Homo sapiens: one gene and its partners. The protein of the gene in region 4 interacts with the protein of the main gene of each other region in a biochemical or structural test. Each region holds a gene or a part of one and is shown on either strand. Other genes may lie near its edges. The genes, in order: PTTG1, UBE2K, UBE2S and ANAPC11.

Evidence for each region.
Region 1: of the proteins of ANAPC11 (region 4) and PTTG1, one has a biochemical effect on the other in vitro, tested with the Homo sapiens proteins (3 studies listed by BioGRID).
Region 2: the proteins of ANAPC11 (region 4) and UBE2K form a complex in vitro, tested with the Homo sapiens proteins (3 studies listed by BioGRID).
Region 3: the proteins of ANAPC11 (region 4) and UBE2S form a complex in vitro, tested with the Homo sapiens proteins (31 studies listed by BioGRID).

The regions. Positions count from the first base shown.
Region 1 is NC_000005.10:160,417,896-160,425,339, forward strand, and holds the start of PTTG1 (securin), read left to right. Parts: upstream 1-3,959; 5' UTR 3,960-3,996; intron 3,997-4,014; exon of another isoform or gene 4,015-4,406; 5' UTR 4,407-4,417; coding exon 4,418-4,508; intron 4,509-4,813; coding exon 4,814-4,998; intron 4,999-6,341; coding exon 6,342-6,435; intron 6,436-7,444. Other genes in the region: pre-mRNA-splicing factor SLU7, read right to left, coding at 1,128-1,158. UniProt on the Homo sapiens protein: Regulatory protein, which plays a central role in chromosome stability, in the p53/TP53 pathway, and DNA repair. Probably acts by blocking the action of key proteins.
Region 2 is NC_000004.12:39,735,794-39,743,362, reverse strand, and holds part of UBE2K (ubiquitin-conjugating enzyme E2 K), read right to left. Parts: intron 5,944-7,569; coding exon 5,850-5,943; intron 1-5,849. UniProt on the Homo sapiens protein: Accepts ubiquitin from the E1 complex and catalyzes its covalent attachment to other proteins. In vitro, in the presence or in the absence of BRCA1-BARD1 E3 ubiquitin-protein ligase complex, catalyzes the synthesis of 'Lys-48'-linked polyubiquitin chains.
Region 3 is NC_000019.10:55,404,669-55,413,067, forward strand, and holds the start of UBE2S (ubiquitin-conjugating enzyme E2 S), read right to left. Parts: upstream 3,121-8,399; 5' UTR 2,922-3,120; coding exon 2,919-2,921; intron 2,295-2,918; coding exon 2,147-2,294; intron 1-2,146. UniProt on the Homo sapiens protein: Accepts ubiquitin from the E1 complex and catalyzes its covalent attachment to other proteins. Catalyzes 'Lys-11'-linked polyubiquitination.
Region 4 is NC_000017.11:81,894,512-81,901,113, reverse strand, and holds the end of ANAPC11 (anaphase-promoting complex subunit 11), read right to left. Parts: coding exon 6,528-6,602; intron 1,873-6,527; coding exon of another isoform or gene 1,572-1,872; intron 1,195-1,571; coding exon 1,049-1,194; coding exon of another isoform or gene 964-1,048; 3' UTR 859-963; downstream 1-858. UniProt on the Homo sapiens protein: Together with the cullin protein ANAPC2, constitutes the catalytic component of the anaphase promoting complex/cyclosome (APC/C), a cell cycle-regulated E3 ubiquitin ligase that controls progression through mitosis and the G1 phase of the cell cycle.

The DNA of each region.
Region 1 (7,444 bases), on a different chromosome or scaffold from region 4:
TGCCTACCTTCCAGCCTCACCATTACAACTATCCCCGCTTCCTTCTCTACTAACTACATAGACCTTCTTGTAGTTCCTCTAGTTCCTCTAACAAACCGTGCTCCCTGTAGACACTGGGCCTTTACACAAGCTCTTTCCCAGTGGAAAGTGCTCAATGCCTGGGGGTCTACGATGCTTCTCAAAGGTGTTCTCTTCTATGTCTGACCTATAGAAAACCTCCACATATATTTGTGTAACATATAAACTGATGGCCTAAATATACTGCGAAGAGAAGCACAACAACGGTAAATTTAATCTTTATTAAAACAGCTACCATTTCTCGAGCCTACCGTGTATCACCTCATCTAATCTTCACAATAAGCCCAGTAGATAGGTCTGATGAACACCATTTTACAGTGAAGAAACAGGTTCTGAGAGGTAAGATCCTCAGCCAAGAACACATTGTAGTAAGAAATAAGGACTTCAAACACAACTCTGACTCCAAAGTCAGTTCTCTAAACCAGTATGTTATACTTGTCCACAGAACATTGGCTTCTGGGCCTAAAATATTAAAAACTAAAACTGAATAAAGTATTATAGTCACCAAGTTGTACGCACTAGTTTCCGTCGCTGTGGAGGGACCTATTTTCTCCAACTAAAAACAGTAATAGCTCCCACTTACTGAGGGCTTACGTAAGACACTGTTTAGCGCTTTACTTACATAGATGTTTTCATTTATACCCGCATGATACCCCACTGAAGTCGGATCATCTCGACTTAACAGGAAAAACTGAAGCTCAAGTAAATTTTTCTGGCGAGGAAATACAGTCTGTCAATTTGGGTACTGGAAGCAGCTTTCCCTGCTCGCAGTCCGGGGATTGCTCAAGGTCTTCGAGGCACCGCCACAAAGGCGACACTCTCATAGTTATCCCGACTGTTTCCCTGAAGACGCAGGCCTGGCCTGGCAGGGCACGAGTGCCATGAATGGGTCTCAGGACAGTGGCTTTTCGGTCCCCCGTCCTCGCTCCCTCAACACCTGAGGGCTCATCACCCCCGTGAAGATATATCCAATAATTAGGAGCCTTCGACTCATTTTCTCAGGTTCCCCAACTCCCCGTCGCCCGCAAGTTCTAACAATATTTTCTTACCCAGCCCCGCCGCAGCTAGCCCCAAGTCCATCCGACAGAATCCAAGCCAATCTCGTAATGTTTACTTCCGGCTTTTCGCCTAATTCCGGCGGCCACTGCGGTAACTTCCGGATGACCGGCACATGCGCACTAATTTCCTGGCGGGGCCGGGGGCGGAGGGGGGCCCTCCAGTGCTCCTGCGCCGTGGGAAACGCGAGAACTCTAGCTGCTGCGTATCGCGCTATTTACCCGGCTTGTGGGGAGTTTCAAGTTGGGCGGCTACTTTTTGGCTTCTATTTAGGAGCTTTCTTTTAGAATCGGAGAATTTTAGGAAGTTAAAAAAAAAAAAAAAAGACCAGAACAGACAAGAGCTTAAGCCTCACCAGGGGACTATGAAATGAATGGGGAAGTTGGTGACGTATCAGCTTAAAAAAAAAAAAAAAGCAGTTAAACTTGGCACTAATTAGTAGCCAGGCTGTGTAACATGCTGGGGATTTGGTGAACAGTGTCTTCCCTCAGATTTACATCAGAGTGCGAAAGACACCGAAACAACTATTCAGATTTAGCAGCTGTGAAAAGTTGCTATGAAAAGAATACCAGGTGCTGTGAGAACATAAGGCATGTTATCATTAGAAAAAAATACGACAATTTCCATTTTGGAGAAACAGTATCTATGCTATCCCATCCCTTCTTTAAAAGTATACATGTGAAATAAAACACTGGAAAATAAACTAATTTTCGTGGTAGAATTTCTTGTGATTTTTTTTTTTCTTTGTGCTTTCTATTCTGGTTGTTCTCCCCCTCCCCCCCATAACGTGTATCCTTTTTGAATGTAAAAGTAAAAGTAGCTACCATTCCTGCCTCAATAAAATAGCCCAACATAATAGAATCTATTTTTTTCGTATTAAGAATTTGCAATACCTGGAGTTTAGGAACATAAATATTAATTTTGCTTTTACAGGGCAGTAGATGAAGAAACAGTGTCAGAGACTAGCGTGAAAGTGAATAGAGTCTATGAATCACTCAGGCTTTGTTTTTTTCCACTTAAAAATATTCCTGAAATTTGCTTAGGAGTGTTAAGGCCTAATTAGCCAAAACCACCAGGAGAGCGCATCTCGAAGAGGAATCAGAAAGCGCAGGACAAGACAGTTGAATCTTTTCTAAGACTTGAGGTCCCTCTGGAGGGTTCTGAGGAAGGTCTAGGAAAGCCGGGATTGGTTCTGGATGGGTTGCTGTTTGTAAAGAAGGATTGGGAGAAACTGATTAGGGACTAAGTGCTGTTATGAGTGAGGGTGGTTTAGCAATTGAGTATTTCCAGTAATAGGAATAGCAAAGCTGGTCTGAGGGCATCATTAGTAAGAAAACAGTGGTTATTCAGAGAGGGTGGTTATGGTTTACAGCTGCTGCATGACCTTAGGAGAAACAATGCTTTCTGTTGGTGAAAAAAAGAAGACATCCTAAGACAAACCTTGCACCTCAAAACCTCTGTAGATAGAGAATCCCCACTTGGAAGCTATAGGTGTTGTGCAGATTTAGTCTTAAAAATTAACACTTTGAGTGCTGATAATATAATATGATGATGTAAAATTTAGGAGATACAGGAGGAAATAAAGGATGGGGATAAAGGAAAAAGAACAGTGAAGGGACAATAAAGGTATGCATATTTTTCTGTCTTTCCTCTTTTCTTCACCTTAAGTTAGGCTCTTTTCTTATAACCTAGTATAATGTCCAGCATTTAATAGGTATTCAATAAATATTTGTGAATGAATGAATCATTCAATCAATATTGGTCCTGAAATGCCAGGGAAAAAGAGATGATGAACTGGCATATATTGAGAACCATGTCTATGTCAGGTATAGTGTCAAGCCTTTCGTGAAAGAGTAATATGGAATCAACTCCTCTCTCTCAGCTGATCTGCAGCTTAAAATGCATATATGGTGAACTGTGGGAAGCGGAGTTTGAATGACACAGGTCAGCCTTATGTTTTAATTTATATCTTCATCTTGTAGTTGTTCAATGTATTCCATTTTACTATAGAAACAGGAAAAGGTCGTCAACTTTTTCAAGCAAAATTTCTTTTCATATCTGGGAAATTGGAATTCCTTTTTTATATCTTTATTATCTCTCTGATATTCTCTTGCTCCCTGGCCAAGCCCTTCCAGGCAACTTTGGTTAATATATTATTGAGATGTTAGAGGTTTAAAATAAATCACTATCAAAGGATAGAATTTTAAGGGAAGACTAAATTATGTATTCATTAGAATCATAATTTTGTTCCTAAGACAGATTCGTGATGGTATAATAGAAACAGTGTCTTAGCCTGAAGTATTGAGGATAGTCCTAAGATTAGGGAACGATCAGTTCGTTCTTAATCATAAGCATAAGAGAATGACTCAAACGCTGCTGTTTGATCTACCTGTACTTACATTTCTTCTTAATTTTAAATTCTTCTCTGCTAGTATTCTTTAGACCCAACATTGGTTGTTTCCCCTATTTCTTCAATATTTCTATTTATTTTCCATCCTTTTTACAGGGTCATCTAAATAAAAATATCTTAAAGCAATAAACCATTGTTATTGAGTCAGTACCTCAGTCCATGCAGCTTAATAATATGGAGAGCAAAAAAAAAAAGCCTCTCGATTTATTTTTTAATATTACACGATCCTAGTTTTTTCTTCCCAGAAAACGTGCCACAAAGTTTGCAAGAAAGAGCTTTTGGGGCGGAGCCCTGGCTGCTTAGGTCCTTTCCATTGGTTCTACTTGGTGACCACGCCCACGGCCCCGCCTCCTGGGCGGAAGAGCCAATTGGGCCGCGAGTTGTGGTTTAAACCAGGAGTGCGCCGCGTCCGTTCACCGCGGCCTCAGATGAATGCGGCTGTTAAGACCTGCGTGAGTGAATGGGAGGGTCGCGGGTGGTTAGTTGAGCCGGCTCCGGCGGGGAAGGAGGCGGGCTGCGGCTGCGGCTGGGGCTGAAGCTGGGGCTGGGGTTGGGGGACTGCCCGGGGCTTAGATGGCTCCGAGCCCGTTTGAGCGTGGTCTCGGACTGCTAACTGGACCAACGGCAACTGTCTGATGAGTGCCAGCCCCAAACCGCGCGCTGCTCGGGACCTTAGAGCCTCTGACTCAGGCTGGAAGATTTGAGAGCTGGATTAAGTACTTGTTGGCTCACGCCCGTGACTGTTCCGCTGTTTAGCTCTTGTTTTTTGTGTGGACACTCCTAGGATAGAAAGTTTGGTATGTTGCTATACCTTTGCTTCTCCCACCTTCCCCAATATCTAATATGTATTTCTCATTCTTAGAATAATCCAGAATGGCTACTCTGATCTATGTTGATAAGGAAAATGGAGAACCAGGCACCCGTGTGGTTGCTAAGGATGGGCTGAAGCTGGGGTCTGGACCTTGTAAGTATACAAGGCTGCAGTCGGATACACTGGTATTGTGGACGTGGCCTGGAGCTGGACGAGACATTTAGTGTACTTTTTGGGCAATTGGAGTCGTTTGTTATTGGTCCTTTTTCATTTTTAATATCTTAATGAGATGATTTAAGGAAGTTACTGAATCTCTGCTATTAGGCCTATCATAGCCATGCCACTACCAAAAGTGGGGGGTGGGTTTGGGGGTGAGAGGTCAAGTTTATATACACAGTATTTAAGTTGTACAGGTATTTTGCTGCTGGAATATTCTTATGGTAAGACTTTTTCTTCAGCAATCAAAGCCTTAGATGGGAGATCTCAAGTTTCAACACCACGTTTTGGCAAAACGTTCGATGCCCCACCAGCCTTACCTAAAGCTACTAGAAAGGCTTTGGGAACTGTCAACAGAGCTACAGAAAAGTCTGTAAAGACCAAGGGACCCCTCAAACAAAAACAGCCAAGCTTTTCTGCCAAAAAGGTAAGTGTTGGCTATAAAGACACTGTTTAAACACTTAAGCACTTTTGACTCTTAAAATGACTATTGGCATCATCCTACGTAGCTTTCTTCCCTCTGAGTAGAAGGGAAATAGAGGTTAGCAAGCAGAGTAGTGGAGGAGACTCAGATTGTCCTTGTGGACTTCTTGGTACCTTGAGATTGGAAATCTCAGATGCAGCTAATGCATATTTTTGCCTCATGCATATTTTTGCCTCACCTGTCCTTCACTAGTGTCGTGAAACTGGTTGGTGGTGTCTACTTACAGATACATACTGAGAGAGAGGGTGCCTTAAGAGAAACTGGTTGGTGGTATCCACTTACAGATACATACTGAGAGAGAGGGTGCCTTAAGAGGTTCTGTTGCTGCTTTAATAGCACAGGTGCTGCCATTCTCTTAGCCTTCCAGGGCAAGCAGCAGCTTGTTAGGTGACAATTTGCTAGCATGTTGATCTTCGTGTGAGTGTGAGTCACAAGCTACAGGTCTGTGTATCCCAGATGAGAGGACTTTGCTGTGAAAGATGACATTAGCATGTGGATTAACACTTTATTTGAATAACTGTTTTGTTTAATTTGCATTAGGAAACAACTAGTGAATTACATATAGTGCAACTTAGGACAAAGATGTCTTCTTTAAAAAGTGAATTAACTTAAAGAAAAATATTAAATACAGGAATTGCAAAGACATGGCAAAAACAATGAGACACAGAACCGAAGTGTGAGAACCCCATAGGGAATTCTAGGCATGCATATGTGAGGTGAGATAAAGCAGGAACATGCCGGCTTCCATTGTAGCACCCTTCTATAGTAGACTGTAGTAGACCTGTCAACTCCAGACTAGAAGATTGCCCATGGTGTTTATTCTAAAGTCCTTGACAGTGTCTTGCTGCCTCTTACTCAGTGTGTGTATTTGAGGAACACAAACTTGTTTTTAATATTAACCAAGCAAATAATTTAAGGTAACACTTGTGGAAAAAATCACACTCCTATAAGCCAAAAATGGCTTTGATGATTAGCTACTATCCTGGGTGATTCATGCCCATTTTCTCCTCTGTTAGGTTGAATAATTGCATTGATTAGCTCTGAATTAACTGCATTCTTGATCACTTATGCTGACAGGTGCTGGTACTTAAATTTCAGATTTTAACTTTTGAGTCATGCTACTCGAATTACATTTGAATCATATTATTTGAAGTATATTTAGGTGCAATTATGAAAACTAAGGATTATGGCTTCTTAGAAGGCAGCATGAAATTGACAAATTTAAAAACTAATCAGCTAATAAGACTTCCACTGTCACTAACCCATATTTTCTTTGGCTGTTCTAGATGACTGAGAAGACTGTTAAAGCAAAAAGCTCTGTTCCTGCCTCAGATGATGCCTATCCAGAAATAGAAAAATTCTTTCCCTTCAATCCTCTAGGTAGTATCTTTTGCAATTGCGAAAAGTGCTTTTGGCCTTTAGTTTCTTAGTATTCAGCTCAGCTGTAACTTGTTATGAATATAATATATGACCAAAAACTATGATGAGACTGTCTGAATCTGGGTTGCTTTGGACAAGTGTACTTGTTGATGGAATTATTTGCAAGGTATCATCTTAGGTCAGGAGGGGAATAGGAACAAAGATGTAGAAGACATTGTTCCTGTCTGTAAAAGCTTATCACCTAGAGGAGGTAAGATGTATTCATGAACATTGAATAAGTCCCATTGTGGACAGTCTTTCTCACAAGGCTTTTAGAAGTGAGCTTTATGTCAAGTTGAGCAATGCCTGAGAGTAATTTGGTAGGATTATTTCTTTGGTTTGAAAAATCTACATAAGACAGTGAAGACATGTTTTTCAAATTTCTTCAACCTGCTACATGTATCTGAAGTATTTTCTGTTTTGGAAACAGCTTTTCAAGCTTTAATTTACTCAACCATTTCAGGAGAAGCTACTGTGTGTCAGGCATCCTTAGGTCCTGGACACACTGTTTAACAAGATGGGCCCTGCCTATGGGAGCCCATAATTTGAAGGGAAAGTCAGATGCTGGACAAGTCATCTCACTGTGAGTGAGCCAGAAAAAACAGCATTGTAGGTCAAAGTGGTGCAAAGATCGTGAGGTAGGAAAAGAGACTAAAGTGGTTCTAGGAAAAATACAGGCAGGGTAAAGGAGGATACAGGTGAGGTGTGGGATCAGATCAGGGAGGGCCTTACGGATTTCTGAGCTGGATCTTTTACCCTTTTATTTAGCCAAAGAGGTCATGTAGTTATTTTACTAATTTGCATTCAGATTGTTCTGGCTTTTAGAAACTACAAACATTTCTATGATTAGTATTCTTGAAATGATCTTGTTGTAAGTTTGTGAGTACATCTGGAGGGAAACTTTGAGAAGGATTGCTGAGTTCAAGGGCTTGTGTGATTAAGTTTTAAAATTATAAAATGTGGTGCATCC
Region 2 (7,569 bases), on a different chromosome or scaffold from region 4:
CAAAGAGCTGGGATTACAGGCATGAGCCACTGCGCCTGGCCTATTCTTCTTTTTTATATATCTGAAATTCCCTGTAATAAAAAGTAAAATAAAAAACTGTGTGCTAGGAACATTATCTTCAAAATTCTATACACTCAGCTCTTCAAAAAGTCAAACAAGAGACTTTCTTCAGTATATTCTAGACTCTCTCAAATGTATCTCCTCACTCCTCCATTGTTATGAATGGATGGATGACTATGAATCTGAGGAAAAAATAAAAGTGGTACTATTTTCTTCAAGCCCTTTTTGTTTCGAATCCTTCTCTTTTTTTTTTTTTCCTGAGACAGGGTCGTTCTGTTGCCCAGGCTGGAGTGCAGAGGCACAATCTTGGCTCACTGCAACCTCCACCTTTCAGGTTCCAGCAAATCTTGTGCCTCAGTCTCCTGAGTAACTGGGTTTACAGGTGCCCACCACAATGCCCAGCTAATTTTTGTATTTTTAGTAGAGATGAGGTTTCACCATGTTGGTCAGGCTGGGCTTGAACTTCTGGCCTCAGGTGATCCGCCTGCCTCAGCCTCCCAAAGTGCTGGGATTACAGGCATAAGCCATTGCGCCTGGCCTCTCTTCTGGCTACTTTTTATTTGAGGCGGATTCTCACTCTGTTGCCCAGACTGGAGTGCAATGGTGCGATCTCGGCTGACTGCAACCTTCACCTCCCAGTTCCAGCAATTCTCCTACCTCAGCCTCCTGGGTAGCTGGGACTACAGGTGCGCGCCACCATGCCTGGCTAATTTTTTAATTTTTTTTTAAGTAGAGACAGGGTCTCAGCATGCTGGCTAAGCTGGTCTCAAACTCCTGACCTCAAATAATCTACCCGCCTCAGCCTCCCAAAGTAATGGGATTACAGGCATGAGCCGTTATGCCTCGTGGCTAGTTCTTTTTAATAGAATCCCATAGTGATTCATGCATGAGTTGAACTAAATGCCTGAATCACAGAACATATAACAATAATGAAATTTAAAGAAAAGTAGTGGAAAGAAAAAAAAAACTGACAGGTAAGAGAAGGGTACCTGAAGAAATTTTGTGACAATAACTGTCTATACCCAGAATTAGAAATGCCAGCTTCAAATATAGTTATAATAAATTTGGCTTCAGCACTACATAGGCTTTTCTTTTTCCTTCCTAAGAATTTTTTTTTTCTGATTAAACTCCAGATTAAACCATCTCTATAACCCATCATACAAAGTTCTTTGTTAATGGCCAAAATAATCTCTTAGGAGCAGTGTGAGGGCCCACAGATATTATATAAATAATGCTGGACTCGAGAGTCTCTAAAATCTTATTTCTATCCCTTATGTTACACGCTCTGACAACTTTCAATATATGACCACTTAGCATTAATCATAGCATTATTTGATCAGGGTAATACAACTAAGGAATCCTTATGATAACTATATTATTCATATTATAATAGTTTTTACTTTAAAACATTAACTTCTTGAAGAATAGCTTTTAATATTAAAAATTAACAATCTTTAAATTTAACTTAACCCAAAGAGGAGATGAGGAAGGAATGAGAATTTTTAAGCTGTCAACAATGATTCCATAAACCTAAAAGAAATTTTAGGAAGAAAAGCTCAAGAACTAAACTGTTCCTTTGTCATTGAATTATTAAGGCAAAAGAAGTGAAGAAAATTGAGTTAAGTAACATCCACAATATGGCATTTTCCCGTGAGTACTCTACTTCACAATCTGATTCTTTAAATACTACAAAAACAGCTGCCTCATTACTTAATAATGGTTATAAATTGCTTAACATTCCACATGTAAACTTTTGCTTTAGCATTTAAGTTTAGATTTTTAAAAACTCAAAAAACTGCAACATCCTTGCAATAAACATTTAACCTATCGTCACATTTAAAAGAAAAAGCATTAAAGTTTATGTCCTTGAATGGTGTTTTCCTTAACAAAATGAACTTCTCTCAATAGTTTTATATAAAATAACAGAATTCAAGTTACTCTACCTCAAATATATAAAAAGCATATTAAATCTAATCTTATCAAAATATTCATTTAGCAGCAGCAGCAGCAGAAATAAGCACTTTTTTTTTTTGAGATGCAGTCTCCCTCTGTCGCCCAGGCTGGAGTGCAGTGGTGCGATCTCAGCTCACTGCAACCTCCGTCTCATGGATTCAAGGGATTCTCCTGCCTCAGCCTCCTGAGTAGCTGGGATTATAGGCGCACGCCACCACACCCAGCTAATTTTTGTATTTTTAGTAGAGATGGAGTTTCACCACGTTGGTCAGGCTGGTCTTGAACTCCTGACCTCGTGATCCACCTGCTTCAGCCTCCCAAAGTGCTGGGATTACAGGCATCAGCCACCCCGCCCAGGCAGATATAAGCACTTTTAAATGACCAAACTTTTGGTCCCATTCTCGGTATCGGGAAAAAGAAAAGAAAAAAAATGACCAAACTTGTTTCTAACCAATAAAGAATATATCTTTTTTTTTTTTTTTTTTTTGAGACGGAGTCTTGCTCTGTTGCCCAGGCTGGAGTGCAATGGCACAATCTCGGCTCACTGCAAGCTCCGCCTCCCGGGTTCACACCATTCTCCTGCCTCAGCCTCCCAAGTAGCTGGGACTACAGGCGCCCACCATCACGCCTGGCTAATTTTTTTGTATTTTTAGTAGAGACGGGGTTTCATCGTGTTAGCCAGGACGGTCTCGATCTCCTGACCTCGTGATCTGCCCGCCTCAGCCTCCCAAAGTGCTGGGATTACAGGTGTGAGCCACCGCACTCGGCCATAAGAATATATCTTAATGTATCTTTTTTTTTTTCTTTTTGGGACAGAGTCTCGCTGTCGCCCAGGCTGGAGTGCAGCAGCGCGATCTGGGCTCACTGAAGGCTCCGCCTCCCGGGGTTCACGCCATTCTCCTGCCTCAGCCTCCCGAGTAGCTGGGACCACAGGCGCCCACCACCTCGCCCGGCTAATTAGTGTATCTTAATATATCTTAATGTATATAAGTATACATTATCCAATTAAAAAAATTAATCTACCTATTAAATATTGCTTCTATCTAATTTAGCTCAGGAAGTGCCTTGTTTATAAAAATCAATGAAAAAATTTAAAACTTTGCTGACAGACCTCTAGAATAATGTCACTGCCCTACTATCTTCCAAAAATACTTCAAAACAACCTAAAAAAAAATTCAAGAATAACTATAAGGTCTGACTTCAAGAAGAAGCTAGTATATTATTATATAAAAACATCTGCTATTAGGACAAGCATCTGATTTTTTAAAGATAACTAAAGGTCTCCTCTACATTTAATGATTGCAAAAAGGACTAAATGAAACAGCATCCATGAAAACTGCCAGACCAAGCCAAGCAGATAGGAAGCACTCGATAAACAGCATAAAAAATTAAATATCTAGAAATGGCTCGTATGAACTATAAAACAAAAAATAAAATTTTATCACTTAAGAATTGGTACAAGGTTGGGCACAATGGCTCATGCCTAGAATCCCAAGACTTTGGGACACCAAGGCAAGAGGATTGTTTTAGGCCAGGGGTTTGAGACCAGCCTCGGTAACTTGGCAAGATGCCATCTCTCCAATAAAGAAAGAAAAAAATGGGCTGGGTGCGGTGCGGTGGCTCACGCCTGTAATCTCAGCACTTTGGGAGGCTGAGGTGGGCAGATCACAAGGTCAGGAGTTCAAGACAAGCCTGGCCAATATGGTGAAACCCCGCCTCTACTAAAAATACAAAAATTAGCCGGGCATGGTGGCGGGCGCCTGTAGTACCAGCTACTCGGGAGGCTGAGGCAGGAGAATTGCTTGAACCCGGGAGGCGGAGGTTGCAGTGAGCCAAGATCGTACCACTGCACTCCAGCGTGAGAGACAGAGCAAGACTCTGTCTCCCAAAAAAAAAAAAAAAAAAAATGAATAAACAGAATTGGTATAATATGCTAAAGACATTCTAGGGTCTTAAAAAATCTGGATTAAAAACAAGAAAATATTCAAGAATATTAGATTTTTAAAAAGTGTTTTGGGTAGCCGGGCACGGTGGCTCACTCCTGTAACCCCAGCACTTTGGGAGGCCGAGGCTGGCAGATCACGAGGTCAGGAGATCGAGACCATTCTGGCTAACACGGTGAAACACCGTCTCTACTAAAAAAATACAAAAAAAATTAGCCGGGCATGGTGGCGGGTGCCCGTAGTCCCAGCTGCTCGGAAGGCTGAGGCAGGAGAATGGCGTGAATCCAGGAGGCGAAGCTTGCAGTGAGCCGAGATCGCGCCACTGCACTCCAGGCTGGGCAACAGAGCGAGACTCCATCTCAAAAAAAAAAAAGTGTTTTGGGTAACTGTTCATTACAGAATTATAGAACCACTCGAAAGTATTTAGCTGGTGGCCGGGATTGGTGGCTCACGCCTGTAATCCTAACACTTTGGGAGGCCAAGACAGGCGGATCACCTAAGGTCAGAAGTTCAAGACCAGCCTGGCCGTTATTGTGAAACCCTGTCTCTACTAAAAATACAAAAATTAGCCGGCATGGTGGTGCGCCTGTAATCCCAGCTACTCAGGAGGCTAAGGCAGGAGAATCACTTGATTCTGGGAGATGGAGGATGCAGTGAGCCAAGATTTCACCACCGCACTCCAGGCTGGGTGACAGAGAGACTCAGTCTCAAAAAACAAACAATCAAAAAATGAACAACAAAAAACACACACAAAGTATTTAACTGGATATGGTGGCATGCACCTGTAGTACTAGCTACTGAGGAAGCTGGAGGATTACCTGAGCCTAGGAATTCAAATTTATAATGAGCTATGACCATGCCACTGCTCTCCAGCTTGGGTAACAGTAAAACTTTGCATATAAAAAAATAGATAAAACAAAACAGACATCACCACCACTTCCAATATTAAGTCAATTCTGATTTACATAAAGTGATTAAAAGCACAGGCTTTGAAGACAAAGGCTATCAGTTGTGCTACTTAGATGGTTGACCTTAAACAAGTTACTTCTCTTAACTTGTTTCTTCATCTATGAAACAGCAATCGTTGTATTTACCTAGTAAGATTTGCTGAAAGGATTAAATGAGAAAATACATGTAAAGACTGTATAATTAGGGTTACCATATATTGTTATATGTTTTCTAATAAACAAATATTTGAATAGTTATTAATGCAAGAGCCTTGGTTATATGCTATATAATCTAAATTTACAGTAATATTAATTAATGAAGACTCACCTAATAAGAAAGTAAAATGCTATAAGGTTTATTTCTGTATCTTACCACCCGATTCCATGGTCTAAAGTAGCTACAGACTTAATTTGTGAACACCAAGTTCAGCAAAGCCACCTCCTTTCTATGGCTTGAAATAATCACTAAAAGCTTTCCTGAATAAAGAAAATAAACATTTGGACTACAGCCTGTATGAAGACATGAGTGAATGAAATGCTGAATGACAGAAAGAAGAACTTTAAAAACAAAAGCAACATTTTACCAATGAGATATTTAAGGCAAGGTCTGTTTTAGATACCATATGAAGGGTAACTGAGTGTCTACAGTCCATATGATTTAGAGGTTTACCATGCCAGATCTTTTATTCTATTAAATTCTAACCTATAATACCTGTAACAAAGCTCTGCTAAAACTGTTTTATGGAAAGAAAAAAATTAGCTAAAATTCAGTAAGAAATACCAGTCTATATTCAGTATCTAAATTTAGTATTTTTTAAATTGCTGTTTATCTAAACCAAATGAAGTTACCCTCCATATAATTTATAGATGTTTAAGATTATTCTGATTAAATGTTTCAGACAAGTTCTAATACGCACAATATTTTGATACAGAAAAAAGTACTTGCCTTCATATGGTGTGTCTGGAGGTCCTGCTATTTCTCCTCTTAATTCTGTAAAATTCTCATCTACAAGATCTACTTTAATTTGATTTTTGCTCGTCTTAAAAATAAACAGAAAATAAATGTTAGTTATGTCAGCAAGAAAAACGCCTAAAGTATTACCTATAAAAAATCTTGAAACCCCCTCTTTCATAAGCTTGATTATCTGCTCTAGTAAAATAAGTCTCGGCTTTTCTAGGACTTAATTATCCAGTTTTAAGAATATTTAAAACAAACTAATAAATTCTAACTTCATTGTTTTAAACGAAATAACACCACTATGAACAACAATACAATGGCTTCTTGACTTTCTAGGAATGTTATTAGGGAAAAATAGTATAAAAGCTATTTTATGTTTGCCAATTCCATGTATATCAGGCCCAAAGCGATAAATCTAATCATCCACAGATGAACACTAAGATATTATATTCTGCACTATACCCCCACGATACATGGGTTCTGCTTAAACAGAAAATTCAGGGTCATTAAAAGCCATTTAGGCCATAAACTCTCACTTGAACTAACCATAACAACTTTAAATGTTTAGTTTAACTGACTGAAATAGTACACTATCCACCAGAATGGTGAAAGCTCTAGCTACCTAACAGATTCTCCTTTCCATGAAAAATTCCAGAGGACTAAATGCCTCAAAAGAAAAGGCCTTCTTCAATTTGTTTTTCTGCTTAGTTTATTAAAACGGCAACTACCTACTTCAAAAAACCAGATTTCTACTTTAAATTTATCTACATTGACTTATTTTGCACTTTAAACTACTCCAAGTACTTTCCTATCTATAGCATTACTGAGTCTCTTAACCTTATGACAGTCCATTCTCAGAGCCATGATAACCTTAAATGATTCAGAAAACCATCCAGTGGGACTCACATTAACATTCGTAAGTGCCTGCCAGCAAATGGGCTCTCCACTTATATTCTCAAACCTATGTTAAAAATACAGTAAATCCTCTCGATTTTTTAAACCAAAATCCCTAAAGAACAGGTTACATCTTCCTTTTTTTGAGACGGAGTCTTGCTCTTGCTGCCCAGGCTGGAGTGCGATGGCACGATCTCGGCTCACTGCAACCTCCACCTCCTGGGTTCAAGTGACTCTCCTGCTTCAGCCTCCTGAGTAGCTGGGATTACAGGCACCCACTACCATGCTCAGCTAATTTTTGTTATTTTTAGTCAAGACGGGGTTTCGCCACGTTGGCCAGGCTTGTCTCGAACTCCTGACCTCGCGATACGCCCGCCTTGGCCTCCCAAAGTGCTGGGATTATAGACGTGAGGCACCGTGCCCGGCCTATATCTTCATTTTTTTTGGTTAGAATTCCATATTGTTACCTGATTGACACAACATATCTACTCTTATGTTTTTTGCTTTTAGACTGACTTTCTTAAACTTGATTACTAGATGAAACAGTGTAAGAATTACTGTCTTTGGCTTCCTCCTCCAACCCAAAAAAAAAAACCACAATTTTTACTCTTTTTCTATGTTAAATATTTTTTAGTACAGAACGTTTAGTTCATAAACAATACATGACTTAAAACCCATATTTTTCAAAGTTCACATCACTCCAAATTAATCCTGTTTTTTAATAAAAACATAGGATTTAAAAACTTACTTTCTAATTAGTACTTTTTTTTACATTTTTCTGAAAATATTTTTTATCCAAAAACTAAATTTAACT
Region 3 (8,399 bases), on a different chromosome or scaffold from region 4:
TGGCACAATCTCAGTTCACTGCCGCCTGCAATTCCTGGGCTCAGGTGATCCCATCTCAGCCTGCCAAGTAGCTGGGATTACGGGCATGCCACCAGGTCTGGCTACTTTTTTATTTTAAGAGATAGGGTCTCACTATGTTGCCCAAGCTGGTCTTGCACTCCTAGGCTCAAGCAATTTGTTCACCTCAGCCTCCCAAAGTGCTGGGATTACAGGCGTGAACCACCATGCCCAGTCAGGCTGTAGAATTCTTAAGAGCAAGAGGCCAGGTGTGGTGGCTCACGCCTGTAATCCCAGCACTTTGGGAGGCTAAGGCGGGTGGATCACCTGAGGTCAGGAGTTCAAGACCAGCCAGACCAACATGGAGAAACCCCGTCTCTACTAAAAATACAATATTAGCCAGGCGTGGTGGTGCATGCCTGTAATCCCAGCTACTCGGAAGGCTGAGGCAGAAGAATCCCTTGAACCCGGGATGGGGAGGTTGCAGTGTGCGGAGATCGCGCCACTGCACTCCAGCCTGGGCAACAAGAGCGAAACTCTGTTTCCAAAAAAAAAAAAAAAAAGCCAAGCGCGGTGCCTCACACCTGTAATCCCAGCACTTTGGGAGGCTGAGGCGGGCGGATCACAAGGTCAGGAGTTCGAGACCAGCCTGGCCAACATGGTGAAACCCCATCTCTACTAAAAATACAAAAAATTAGCTGGGCATGGTGGTGCACGTCTGTAATCCCAGCTACTTGGGAGGCTGAGGCAGGAGAACTGCTTGAACCCAGGAGGCAGAGGTTGCAGTGAGCAGAGATTGTGCTATTGCACTCCAGCCTAGGCGACAGAGCAAGACTCCGTTTAGAGAGAGAAAAAAAAAAGAGCAAGAATGGCTGGGTTCCTAGGGGGCCACAGGACCTCCCCCAAAACCTCAGAGATGATGCCCATCTTGCAGCCCCCACCTGTGTCACTATCAAGCTCGTCTGCACCCTCCTGGATCCCCCGTCTCAGCCCAACTGACCACTCCAGTCACAGGCCCTTCCCAGGTGGCAGGGACCCAAGTACGCACTTTCCTATAAGATGCCCATTTATATGCCTTTCAGATCAAGGATCCAACTGTCTGTTAATTCCACAGCCTCCCAACCCAGTGAACGCCTCTCCCACTCACCCACTTGCTTGGGTCAAAATACTGTCCCTCCCCTAGCCCATCAGCAGCCTGAGCACCGGCCTGCTAGGTCCTCCCCTGAATCTCATCCCATCTCCAAGGCTAGCTTCCTGGCTGGCCTCTGGGTTCTTCCCCCTGCCAGGCCGGCTCTCCTCACTACAGTCAATAGGAACTTTGGAGGGATTTGTCACACCCCTGCTTTAAACCTTCCACCAGCTTCCTCTACAAACTCCTTGAAGAGGCCTAGAAGCCCTAAAAGAGCTTGGCAGCTTCATCATCAACTTTCTTCATGTGTTTTTACCAAGCGCCCAGCTCCACCTGCCCAAGGGCCTTTCTGGAGCCTTCCTATTGTCATGATCCCGCGCCCTCTGCAGCAAGGCATGAAGGACCTCAACTGTCACCGCTGCCAGGTCTTTCCTGACCACCTACCACCATCACCACCGTGGACTAGACCATTCCTTCACAGGCTCTGCTCAAATCCTGACTTTGTAGGAATTCTGGTGATAACAGAAATGTAGCCTGCATGAAACAGTATTCTAAATCACTCCGCAAATCATGTGACCCGCAAATCATTCATGACCCGTCTCCCCACGATCTGCATCTGGCTTGTTTCCTCATCCCTGACACTCACAGCAGGATGGAGTTTGAGATCACCTGGCCCACCCTCCCAGGCCCTTGCTGACACCATTCCCACCACCTGGAGCTCTCTTCCCATTCCTACTTAATTCCTACCCACCCTCAGGTCCAGGGAAGCCATGTCTGAAAGCCTTGCTTCAAATCTAGAGTACCGTCCCATGATATACTAACTCAATGACCAGATATTTCTCAACCCTTGTGGGAAAAGAGTACATAATTGTCATTTGTGGCGTCCTGCCCTGTCCACCAATGCATCCCAACACCTGACACGAGGCCAGCCTGTAATGGGTACTTCCCGCTAGGGTGATCTAGAGCAGGGTGATGGAGGATCTAAGCAGCAGCCCCTTCTCTTTTTCCTTCCAAACTCACCAGGGCCCTCGATGGTGACCTGGAGGTCGGTGAGGTCCTCCTCGTTGGGAAAGACCTTGATGCCATCGGGTGGGTCTGCGGTCAGTGTCGTCACCTCCTTGTACACCAGGCGGATGATGTGCGGGGGTAGGTTCTCCACGTTGGAGTTCTGGGCACGGATGGGAGAGCAGGGTGAGCGAGTGTTAAGAGCTGGGCTTCCCGCAGGGCCTAAAGATGCTGAGACTGCCCAAGTCTTGACTCAGTGGCCCCAGGCTGTCAATCACCCTTGAACTCCCAGACCCTCACCCAGGATGCTTCAGGCCATCAGCCCAGGCAGAGTTTCCAACAGAAATGGGGGCGGGTTCACGGGGGGGCTTGCAGATAACTCCACCCACCCCAGAACCCCCCCCCCAAAGCCCGCTCCTAACCCTGCTTGGTCCCCAGTGGTTCCACGTAGGCCAGAGATCTACTCTCTCCCCCTTCTCCACTAATTTTTGGTTAGAGCATCCTTGAAACCCCGGCTCAGGTCTGGAGATGGCGGCGGGGCGTCCTTGCTCCTGGTAACACCCATGGGCGGGCCGCAAAGCGCCCGGAGCCCTCGCCGCCAGGGAGACTGCGGGCCGCCCGAGCTCCTGCTCCGCCTGCGGGAAGGCCCTCGGGCCCATCCCGGGTCAGGGACCCCCAGGCTGGCCCTCAAACCCCTCAAGGCCGCCCGTCGGAGGCCCCTGAGACTCCACCTCCTCCCTCAGGGACACCCCCGACCACCTTCATGGGCCTCATCGCCCGTGCTCACCATGGCTGCGGCCGGCCGGGGGCGGGTCCCCCCGGCCCCCTTCCTGCGTTCTTCGGTCCGCCGGCCGGGGCGGGGGGCCCAACTGCTGCCGCTGCGGCCCTGGAGAGGCCCCGGCGGCCCCGCTCCGCTCCCCGCTGCCTCCGACGTCCGCCGCGCACAGCGTAGACCAACCCGCCGCCCCGGTGCCCGGCAGCACTGAGCCGGCCGCGCGCGCACCACTGCCTCTTTATAACCGCCCGCAGGCCACGCCCTCCGCGGCCCCTCAGCTCCGAGCCTCAACCGTGACGTCAGCGCGCACGTTCCTTGGTTTTCGACGCGCTCGCTCCCTTCCCCGCAAACTATGGTCAGAAGCGAGGGAAGTGGCGGAGAGGGCTGGGTAGCGGGCCGGCCAATGGGGGCCCGCGGGGGTCGGGAGGGTTCTCAAAGAACGGAGGGGCTGAAAAGGGGAAGAAGAGAGGAAGGGGGACGGGGAAGGCGACGCGGCCGCTGATTGGACCGTTTGAATGAGACGCCGCCACGGCCCGGCATACGCGCGGGCGCGCCCTGACGCTGAGGAAGTCGCGCACGCGACTAACGGTCTTCCTGGGGGCCGGAGCGTGGCGAGGGGAGGCGGGACTCGGGGTTTTAAACGCGTGATGGAAGGCGCTCGGGCCAATAGGGATGCGCTTTAGTGACTGGTGGGTCACGAGACTCGCATGGGCCAATGACTGATAGAGACCGGTCAGAGGGCGACCCAGTTTCGTGCAGATCAAACCGCTGCCAGCCAACGAAATCCGTTGATTTTTGTATATGCAAATGAAGTGTGCGCTGCCGCCCGCGCCCCCTCCTTTGAGCCGTGGTGGAGGTGGGCGCTGGAACTCCGACTACATTTTTCTATGAGGCGCCATTTTGTGCTGGAAATGCTCTTGGACCCACGTCCTGTATTGCTAAGGCTCAAAGATCAGTCAGAATGACCTTGAAGGCTTGGACAGCCTTGCACTCCGTGTGTGACCCCCACTCCTGCCAGGCTTCATCGAAGACGCCAGCCTCAGTTTCCTTATGTGACAAATGGGCACTGGGATCCGTTGTATTGCCAGGGAAAGAAGTCAGAGAGTGCCAAGACGGTTATTCACGGCATGGTTATGCCTATGACTGACCCATGGCCTCCAGCCACACCCGCCTTCTCTGGGACTCAGTTTCCCTCTCTAGGAAATGGACACATAGCTGCCTGGAAAAGGGACCATCTCCAGCCCTCAGTGTCAGTAAAAACGTCAGGCAATTGCTTGAGAACGGTGGCCAGAGCTCCCTGAGCAGGCCTTTTGGAGGGGCTTAGAGAGGAGGAGGGAATGCTGAAGTTGGCCTTCCTTTGCTCATCTGTGCAGTGCGGTCGCAGTGCCCTCTCGGTGTCTCTGCCAGTCTGTGCGTCCACAGCTCTTCTTAGTTTCTTGGCCTTTTTCAGCCATGGATGAGAGCATTAACATCTGGGCCTAATTTGGCCACAGGTACCTGAAAAGACCCCTGGCTACCAGCTTCCCCTCATGGGGCCTCAGCTTCTGAAGAAGGAATAAGGAAGGTGTGAAAGAAATCTACATGGCCAAGGCCAGGCGTGGTAGCTCACGCCTGTAATCCCAGCACTTTGGGAGGCTGAAGCTGGCAGATCACCTGAGGTCAGGAGTTTGAGACCAGCCTGGCCAACATGGTGAAACCCCATCTGTACTAAAAATACAAAAATTAGCCAGGTGTGTTGATGCAGCCCTGTAATCCCAGCTACTCGTGAGGCTGAGATGGGAGAATCGGTTAAAGCCGGGATGTGGAGGTTGCAGTGAACTGAGATCTCGCCACTGCACCCCAGCCTGGGCAACAGAGCAAGACCCTGTCTCAAAAAACAAAAAAGCAAAAAAAAAAAAAAAACCAAAAAACAAAACCTACATGGTCGGGTACAGTGACTACGCCCATAATCCCAGCACTTTGGGAGGCCAAGGTAGGTCGATCACTTGAGCCCAGGAGTTCAAGACCAGCCTGGGCAACATAGTGAGAGACCCCCACCAATATGTACAAAACAAACAAACCCAAAACAACTGAAGAAACAGCTACAGCATAAAAAGTCATCATCATAACTAGTTTGTGGAGAAATGGCTTCAGGTGATCCCTTCCTGCTCCCTCACCCCAGGTCCAATCTATACCAGTTCCTGTTGACGTCATCTACTGAATCTCATCACGTCCCCCCATCCGCTATGCCACCAGTCCTGCTTAGAGTCAACGTCATCCCATTTTGCCGATAAGCATTTTGCTGATCTTCAATTTTAGCCTGCTGGGTGTGGAGGATTCCAACCCAATTAACAGACAAGGAAGCTGAAGGAGCAGGAGGTAAAGTGACTTGCTCGGGGTTCCCCAGCTGGGACAAGGCAAAGCTAGTGGCTAAATTCGTCTTGATCTTAAAAATCCACCCAAAAGACATAACAATAATGATGATAATACTAATGGTTATTATGTATTATTTGCTGTGTGCCAGACCCTGTTCTAGTTTCTTTACATGCTTGATGTCATTTAATCCTTGTAACAACCATAATGGGTGGATATTATTAATTATTATGATCCCCTCTGGATACCTGCATTTATTCAATACATTTGTTCTTCTTTATTAGTGTCTACACTCTAGCTGTCAGGATGCTATGGGATACAGCAGAGAATAAAAGGGACAAAGCCTCGACTTTCATGGATCTTACATCCTGGTGCGGGAGCCAGATAGCAAGTAAGTCTATACCATCATGTCAGCAAGTGATAAAGACTGAAGAACAATCAGCAAGTGATAAAGACAGGAACAATTAGTGGGAGGGGGAGGTTTGAGAGGGAGGGATGGGGCTGCCATTTTACCTTGGCTGGGCAGGGAGAATCTGTCTGAGGAAAGGTCATTTGGGCTGTTGGAAGGTCTATGGGAAAAGCATTTTGAGCAAAGGGAACAGCAGGTGTCAAGAAGATTGTGCTTGGTGCTTTTAGGGAACATTAGGAGGCCAGCGAGGCTGGATTGGAGTGAGGCAGAGCAAGTAGAGGGCTCTGAGGTGGGAGAGGTGAGGGGCTGCTGGTGGGCCTCCTAGGCCATGGTGAAAAGTATGTCTGTTTTTTGAGCAATGGGGAGCCATTGGTGGCTTTGAGCAGAGAATGACTCCTTCAGACTTATGAACAGAAACAGGGAGGCCAATGAGGAGGTGATTACCTTTGTTCAGGTGGGATGATGGTGGCTCCAAGCAGGATTGGTGGCATTAGGAATGGGGGAAGTGATGAGATGATGTCAACAGCAACTGGTATAGATTGGACTTGGGGTGAGGGAGCGGGAGGGATCACCTGTACCCTAAATAATCACCTGAAAACCGGGAAGGCAGACCTTTTCCAAAAAGGTTTTCCAATGCTGTGGTCCATTGGTCTCTGGTCCAACTCACTAAACTCTGCCCTTGTAGCTCCTAAGAAAACTAATGGGTGTGTTTCCAAAAACAGGCAGTGGCCAAAGTAGGCCCCTGAGCTATAGTTTGCTCCCTGCTTTACACATATCCCACGTGCCCCACCCCAGCTGAAAACTCAAGAGTCCTCCTCCCCACTACATTTTGCATAAGCCCCAGACTCCCCAAAAACCCATAAGCCCTTGCACCATCTCCTGAGGCTTCCTTGCCTTTTTCTGTTTGTTCCTGGAATACGCCAAGCTTTTTACCCTGAGGACAGTTGGACAGGCAGTTCTCTGTGCCGGTCGTGCTTTTCCCCTTTCCTTCTTCTCATCTCCTAGGTTTACCCTAACTCGTCACCCCTTCACGGCAGCTTCTCTCCTCTTTCCTCCCCTCCCATGCTCTCTTTGCTTCATCCTCTTTGAACTTCATGATCTATCAGGATTTGCAATTATTTGCCTGATTGTGTGTTTGACTCTTCCCAACTAGAAGATTAGCCCCAGCAGAGCAGGGATCTTGTCCTCAGTCCCTAGCAGGGCGCCAGACAGACTGAAGATGTTATACATTCAACCAATATTTATTGAGCACCTACTATGTGCCAGGCACCAATCTGGGTGCTTGGGATTTATCAGAGATCAGATAGACAAAGATCTTTGTCCTTGGGATGCATCAGATAACAGATAGACAAAGGGCTTACTGTAGTTGAGGAAGACAGAACCAAAAATGAAACATAATAAATAAGGAAAACATGGTATTTTAGAAGGAACTACATGTTGTGGTAGGTAGGGAATACTCTCTGTTAACCATGTTTTTCCTCTGCTCTCATGCCACAATAATCAACTGATCTTCAACAAAGCATACAAAAACATAAAATGGGGAAAGGACACCCTACCCGATAAATGGTGCTGGGGAAACTGGCAAGCCACATGTAGAAAAATGAAACTGGATCCTCATCGCTCACCTTATATTAAGGTTGGTGCAAAATAAATCGAGGTTTTTGCCATTATTTTAATATTTGCAAGCTATACATCTGACAAAGGACTAATATCCAGAATTTACAAGGAGCTCTAACAAATCAGCAAGAAAAAAAATGATCCAATGAAAAAGTAGGCAAAGGACATGAATGGACAATTCTTTCAAAAGAAGATATTGCAAACAGCCAACAAACATATGAAAACTGCTCAGCATCACTCATTATCAGGGAAATGCAAATTAAAACCACAATGAGATAATACCTTACTCCTGCAAGAATGGCCATAATTAAAAAAAAAAAAAAATAGATGTTGGCATGGATGTGGTAAAAAGGGAACACTTTTACACTGTTGGTGGGAATGTAAACTAGTACAACCACTATGGAAACCAGTGTGGAGATTCCTTAAAGAACTGAAAGTAGATCTACCATTCGATCCAGCAATCCCACTACTGGGTATCTACCCAGAGGAAAAGAAATCATATGCAAAAGACACATACACATGCATGTTTATAGAAGCACAATTTGCAATTGCAAAAATACGGAACCAACCTAAATGCCCATCATCACCCAATGAGTGGATACAGAAAATATGGTATATATACACCATGGAATACTACTCAGCCATAAAACAGAAAACAGAATGAAATAATGGCATTCTCAGCAACTTGGATGGCCATTATTCTTTTTTTTTTTTTTAGACTGAATCTCGCACTGTCACCTGGGCTGGAGTGCAGTGGTGTGATCTCAGCTTACTGCAACCTCCGCCTCCTGGCTTCAAGCGATTCTCCTGCCTCAGCCTCCCGAGTAGCTGGGATTACAGGCGCCCAACACCAAGCCCAGCTAATTTTTTGCATTTTTAGTAGAGACGGGGTTTCACCATGTTCGCCAGGCTGGTCTCGAACTCCTGACCTCGTGATTCGCCCGCCTCGGCCTCCCAAAGTGCTGGGATTACAGGCGTGAGCCACTGCGCCCAGTCCTGAAGGCCATTATTTTAAGTGAATTAACTCAGGAATGGAAAATCAAATACCCTATGTTCTCACTTATAAGTGGGAGCTAAGCTATGAGGATGGAAAGACATAAGAATGGTACAATGGG
Region 4 (6,602 bases):
CCACAGGATGAAGGCTGCACTATCGGCTTCTCTACTTTTGTTTTGGGACTCAGACTGGCTTCCTTGCTCCTCACCTTGCACATGGCTTATTGTGGGACTTCACCTTGTGATCACGTGAGTCAATACTCCCAATAAACTCTTCATATATACTCTTCATATAGAGTCCTGTCTCTCTAGAGAACCCTGACACAGATTTCAGGTGAGGCCTGGTCTACTCCTCAGGTTGCTGTGAGGAAGGGTCAAGAGACACTGGGCACGGGTCACTGGCCCCATGAATGCCAAGGGCTCCCTAGGTTACTGGAGACACAGCCTGTGCTCTGTCCAGAAGCAGCCTGAGATGCCGGGGCTGCCACTCCCCCAGCGGCCCCTTCCCACCACGATTGTGGGGAGCAGAGGCACACAAAGGAGCCTCCCAGGGCCACCTTTCCCTAGGAAGGGAAGCCTCAGACGTGTGGACACACTTCCCAGTGTCAGGACACTGATCCCTACACTGTGGGAGGCCCAGCCCCGCTGCAGACAGTCCCAGTGAGAACAATGGACGCCCACTCAGAGATGGTGGCCTTCAGTCTGGAGGCGCCACAAGCAGTGGCCGCCAGCTTTGCACAGCCAGGGTCCCTCAGAGCCAGCCTGAGGGAGGGTCCCAGGGCCGCCGCCGGCAATCCAGCAGGCAAGAGCATGCCTGAAGAGCATGCCCCAGGCTCTACCGTCTGATCCTGCTCCTTCTCCTCCCAGTCATGACTCAGGGTTTGACGAGGGCCTTGGCGTTTCACGGAGATGTTTATTCATGAGAGTTTTCATATCAAAACACACCGAGACCACATCTATATGCCGAGAACACAGGCACCCAGAGGCCTCCAGCAAGATTTGAGTAGTTTAATGAGTTTTCACTTATTGGATAAAAGTGTCAACATAGTGATGGCAAAACAAACGCAGCTCCAGCCCTTGTTTCCACCTTGTTGCAGCTCAGGGGCGCTGTCCCCAGCAGCCATCGGCGCCAGCATGAGGAAGGAGTCTCAGGATGCCCCTCCAGCGAGAGCCAGGTCGGGCCTCACTCCTTGAACTTCCATTCCTGGCGGCACATGGGGCAGTGCTGCTGCACCTGCTGTGCGTGCAGCCACTTGAGGATGCAATGCATGTGGAAGCAGTGGGAGCACTGGCCCCACACCAGCGGGCAGTCGTCGCCGGGCACCTTGCCTACGGAGGGGAGGTGGGGAAAAGGACAGGCATGACCAGGCTGGACACAGAGCATGTGACAAGCCAGGCAGGGGTGCAGGTAGGGACCCTGGGCAGTGGCTCCAGCACTGCAGCCTCTCATGTTTCAGAGAAGCCGAAATCAGGAGTGTTACCCAATCGGTCTCCTGACCAGCCCGCCCCCAGGCGAAGACCAGCAATGACCAAGGGACACCGGACATGCGGCCTCCACCCGGGGCAACCGCAGCAGGCGCCTCCCCTCACCCAGGCTCATCATGCTCAGTGGGGAGCCCAGGGGCCTCTCTGAGGAGGTGGCGCTCTGGCCTAGCCCACCCTGTGTCCCCTGTGCTTGAGGCTGGGGAAAAAGGGCAATGTCTGACCTACAGGCCCTGGGCCCATCTGCAGACACTTGATCTGTGATGCCAAAAAGGTCACATGAATGGTCAAGGCACCAAGGAGACGTGCATCTGAGTAGTGAACTGGTCTCTTGATCAAGGGCAGGAGGGGTGGGGTCTGGGGACCTAGAAGACTCTTCCCTAGACATCAGGGATCCGGTGTGCTGCCCAGGCGTTGGGGAAGCTGTGTTGATGGGCACCTGTGGATGGGCCCTGCCTCCCAGGACAGGCACAGGCTGCGGGCACCAGCCCAAACACCTAGAAATGCTTTCTCCATGGAGAGGACCTGACACAGAGAGGGATGCTTGTATCAGCCATGATCAAGAGAAATGAGTGTCCCTGATCTCCAAGAGCCTGGAAACCCCTGAGGAACAGCTGCTGCCAACAGAGCACAGCAAGTCCCAGCCCCAGCCCCACGGCAGGGTCGGCCTGGCATTGTGGAGCTGGAGCTCGTGGCCACCCTCCTGTCCTGGCAGCGCCGGCCCCACGGCATGCCCACTCCCAGCCCTGGGAGGACCTGCCCGTGGGGGTTTCTGGCCTCAGCACAACTCTGCTTGATATCGGCCCTTTCAAATGAGAGCTGAAGCCTGCTAGCCCCCTGAGGAGAGGGGTCTGGGCCACTCTGAGTACTCGGGGGAGGCCTCGTTTAGTCAAAGGTGTCACTTCGTTCTAGTGCATTCCCCACCCGAAGCCGGCCTGGGGTGTCTGATGAGTCCGCAGATGCACTGAGGGTGACTCATTCCAGGACCTGCTGGTCTCCTGATTGCATTTTTTTAAATTAAAACTCCTCTCGGCAAAACTGCACTGCCACCAGAGTCCCCTGGGATGCGGGATGGACTCATTGTTTACCAGCCTCGGGCTCCCACGGTCTTTGTTGAATGAACTTAGTCACTCTGAATTTTTCACAGGAGTTCAATTTTAGCAAAAGAAACCTGGTGCTGCTTAGTATGGAAGCACATTGGACTCGTCAAACGCTTTGCGCGTTAACACTGACTCACTATGACTTAACCATCAGCAGGTCCAAAAATTAGACTCTCAACTCCTGAGTCTCTGCAGCCAACAGGCCCCATGTTAACAAAGCCTGAGCACACTGTGTCAGCGGAGACATGCTGAGTGTTCAGGGCAACACCCTCTGGATGCCCCATCACAGGCCCAGCTGGCATGCTGCAGGGCGGGCTCTGCAGGCTGCCTGTGGACCCACCACTGCAGTCACTTGGGGGCTACCTAGCACCACCTCTAATCCACAGGATTCACCACCCACATCTGGCCCACGGATGCAGCCAGACGAGGTGTGGACACATGGTTCGGAGGAATTTCAGAAGTTAAGCTGCTGCTCCAGAAGTCGAATGCCTGCCCTCAGGGCATCCCACGCACTCTTTGTTACATCCTTAAGAGCAATTTAAAAGAGATCAAATAAAACTGTGCCTTGTGAATTTAGTTATTAACCTAATTAGCTATTAACTACAAATCCAATCAGGTAGAGTCAATCAATAATTTCCTAAGATTACACCCTACCCGTTTGATTAAATGAGGATTAATTCCTGAGTGATGAGATTTCTATTTAGCTAGGGCCAATGTAAAAGTTAAGCCTAGAATAAAAAGTATTTGTACGGGCCAGGCGCCACACCTATAATCCCAGCACTTTGGGAGGCTGTGGCAGGACAGAGCCAAGAGTTTGAGACCAGCCTGGGAAACATAGTGAGACTCCATTTCCACAAAAAAAATTAAAAATTTATGTAGTTTTGTTCAGGCATGGTGGCTCACGTCTGTAATCCCAGCACTTTGGTATGCCAAGGCAGGCAGATCCCTTGAGCCCAGGAGTTCAAGACTAGCCTTGGCAACATAGCAAAACCCTGTCTCTACAAAAAATAAAAAAATAAAAAATTAGCCAGGCATTGTGGAGCATGCCTGTGGTCCCAGCTACTTGAGAGGTGGAGGTGGGAGGATCACTTGAGCTGAGGAATTGAAGGCTACAGTGAGCTATGATTTTGCCACACTGCACTGCCGCCTGGGTGACAGCAAGACCCTGTCTCAAAAAAAAAAAATTGTACTAAGATTCAGTCATCTCAATTTCACCTTAAGAAGCAAAGACAGGGGCGGGTGCAGTGGCTCACACCTGTAATCCTGGTACTTTGGGAGGCCGAGGTGGACGGATCACCTGAGGTCAGGAGTTTTAAGACCAGCCCGGCCAACATGGTGAAACCCTGTCTCTGCTAAAAATACAACAAGGGCTGGGCGCAGTGGCTCATGCCTGTAATCCCAGCACTTTGGGAGGCTGAGGTGGGCGGATCACGAGGTCAAGAGATCGAGACCATCCTGGCCAACATGGTGAAACCCCATTTCTGTTAAAACTACAAAAATTAGCTGGGCATGGCGGCGAGCGCCTGTAGTCCCAGCTATTCGGAAAGCTGAGGCAGGAGAATCACTTGAACTAGGGAGGCGGAAGTTGCAGTGAGCCAAGATCGTGCCACTGCACTCCAGCCCTGGTGACAGAGTGAGACTCTGTCTCGAAAATAAATAAATAAATAAAAATAAAAATACAACAAATTAGCTGGCTGTGGTGGTGCATGCCTGTAATCCCAGCTACTTGGGAGGCTGAGGCCGGAGAATCCTTTGAACTCAGAAGGGTGGGGGTTGCGGTGAGCTGAGATGGTGCCATTGCACTCCAGTCTGAGCAACAGGGCAAGACTCTATCTCAAAAAAAAAAAAAAAAAAAAAAAAAAAAAAAAGCAAAGGAGGCAGATGAGTGTGGTGGTATGCTACTTGGGAGGCTGAGACAGTAGGATGGCTGGAGCCCAGGAGTTCACGTCCAGCTTGGGCAACACAGTGAGACCCTGTCAATCAATATGGGCATGCACCTGGCCCTACAAAAATACGCCTGGTTACTTGGGGTAGTGAGTAGCTTCTCGGTCCTCCCCATTCCCCACTGTCCTCTCCATTCCCCACTGTCCTCTGGGGAGTTCTTCTTGTCCTCCCTGGGCAAAACCTTGACCCTTGCTTCTGCTTTACGCTCATTTCGGTCTCATGAAAAACCATTTCGCTGATGCAAAACTCTGCTTTCAACCTAAACATAATCAAACATTTCCACTTTTTTTCTTTTTTTTTGAGATGGAGTTTCACTCTTGTTGCCCAGGCTGGAGTGCAATGGTGCGATCTTGGCTCACCACAACATCTGCCTCCCAGGTTCAAGCGATTCTTTTGCCTCAGCCTCCTGAGTAGCTGGGATTACAGGCATGCACCACCATGCCCGGCTACTTTTTTGTATTTTTAGTAGAGACGGGATTTTACCATGTTGGCCAGGCTGGTCTCAAACTCCTGACCTCAGGTGATCCATCCACCTCGGCCTCCCAAAGTGCTGGGATTACAGGCACCTGCCACCATGCCCGGCTAATTTTTTTGGATTTTTAGTAGAGTCGGGGTTTTGCCATGTTGGCCAGGCTGGTCTCGAACACCTGGCCTGAAGCAATCCGCCTGCCTTGGCCTCCCAAAGTGGTGGGATTACAGGTGTGAGCCACTGCGCCTGGCCTATGCCATTCAATTTTGAGAATTTTCAAATAAAAAGTTTAAACTAATCTTTTTTTTGTTTGTTTTTTGAGATGGAGTCTTGCTCTTGGCTCACTGCAACCCCCGTCTCCCAGGCTCAAGAGATTCTCCTGCCTCAGCCTCCCCAGTAGCTGGGATTACAGGCACACGCCACACACCCAGCTAATTTTTGTATTTTTAGTAGAGATGGCGTTTCACTATGTTGGCCAGGATGGTCTCAATCTCCTGACCTTGAGATCCATCCACTTCAGCCTCCCACAGTGCTGGGATGACAAGTGTGGGCCACCACACCCTGCCTTGATCTCTTGACCCTGTGATCTGCCTACCTTGGCCTCCCACAGTGCTAGGATGACAGGTGTGAGCCACCGTGCCGGCCTCCATCTCTTGACCTTGTGATCCGCCCGCCTCGGCCTCCCACAGTGCTGGAATAACAGGCGTGGGCCGCCATGCCGGCCTCCATCTCTTGACCTTGTGATCTGCCCGCCCAGACTCTAATCTCTTTTTAATCCCACGTATTTCACAGCTGAGTTTCATCCTATGGAGTCTGTGACAGGATCTTTATATAAACATGGGTACCAACCACCTGGCTTTTTTTCTATCAACTTTTCTTCATGAGATGAAAATGAAAATGTTGGGGGGGGCACGGTGGTTCGCGCCTGTAATCCCATCCCTTTGGGAGGCTGAGGCGGGTGGATCACCTGAGGTTGACAGTTCGAGACCAGCCTAACATGGAGAAAGCCTGTCTCTACTAAAAAATACAAAATTAGCCGGGTGTAGTGGCACATGCCTGTGATCCCAGGTACTTGGAAGGCTGAGGCAGGAGAATCGCTTGAGCCCAGGAGGCGGAGGTTGCAGTGAGCCGAGATCGCGCCATTGCACTCCAGCCTGGGCAACAAGAGTGAAACTCCATCTCAAAAAAAAAAAAAAAAAAAAAGAAAAGAAAGAAAGAAAAGAAAATAAAAATGTGGGCCAGGCAAAGTGGCTCACACCTGTAATCCCAGCACTTTGGAAGGCTGAAGCGGGCAGGTCACCTGAGGTCAGGAGTTCAAGGCCAGCCTAGCCAACAAGGCAAAACCCCGTCTCTACTAAAAATAAAAAAATTAGCCCAGCATGGTGGCACATGCCTGTAATCCCAGCTGCTTGGAAGGCTGAGGCAGGAGAACCGTTTGAACCCGGGAGGCAGAGGTTGCGGCAAGCCGAGATCGCGCCATTGCACTCCAGCCTGGGAAACAAGATCGAAACTCGGTCTCAAAAAAAAAAAAAAAAAAAGAAAATGAAACTGGGTATTTCGTGCAGGTATTTAACAGGAGCTACTGAGGCTAGTCCAGCAGGCAGCAGACAGCACAGAGGGGACACTCACAGTCGGGGCCGCTCAGACAGCATGGAGGGGACACTCACAGTCAGGGCAGCATCCGTTAAATGCCATCCTGCAGATGCCACAGTTCTCATCGTTGGCCACCCAGAGCCAAGTGG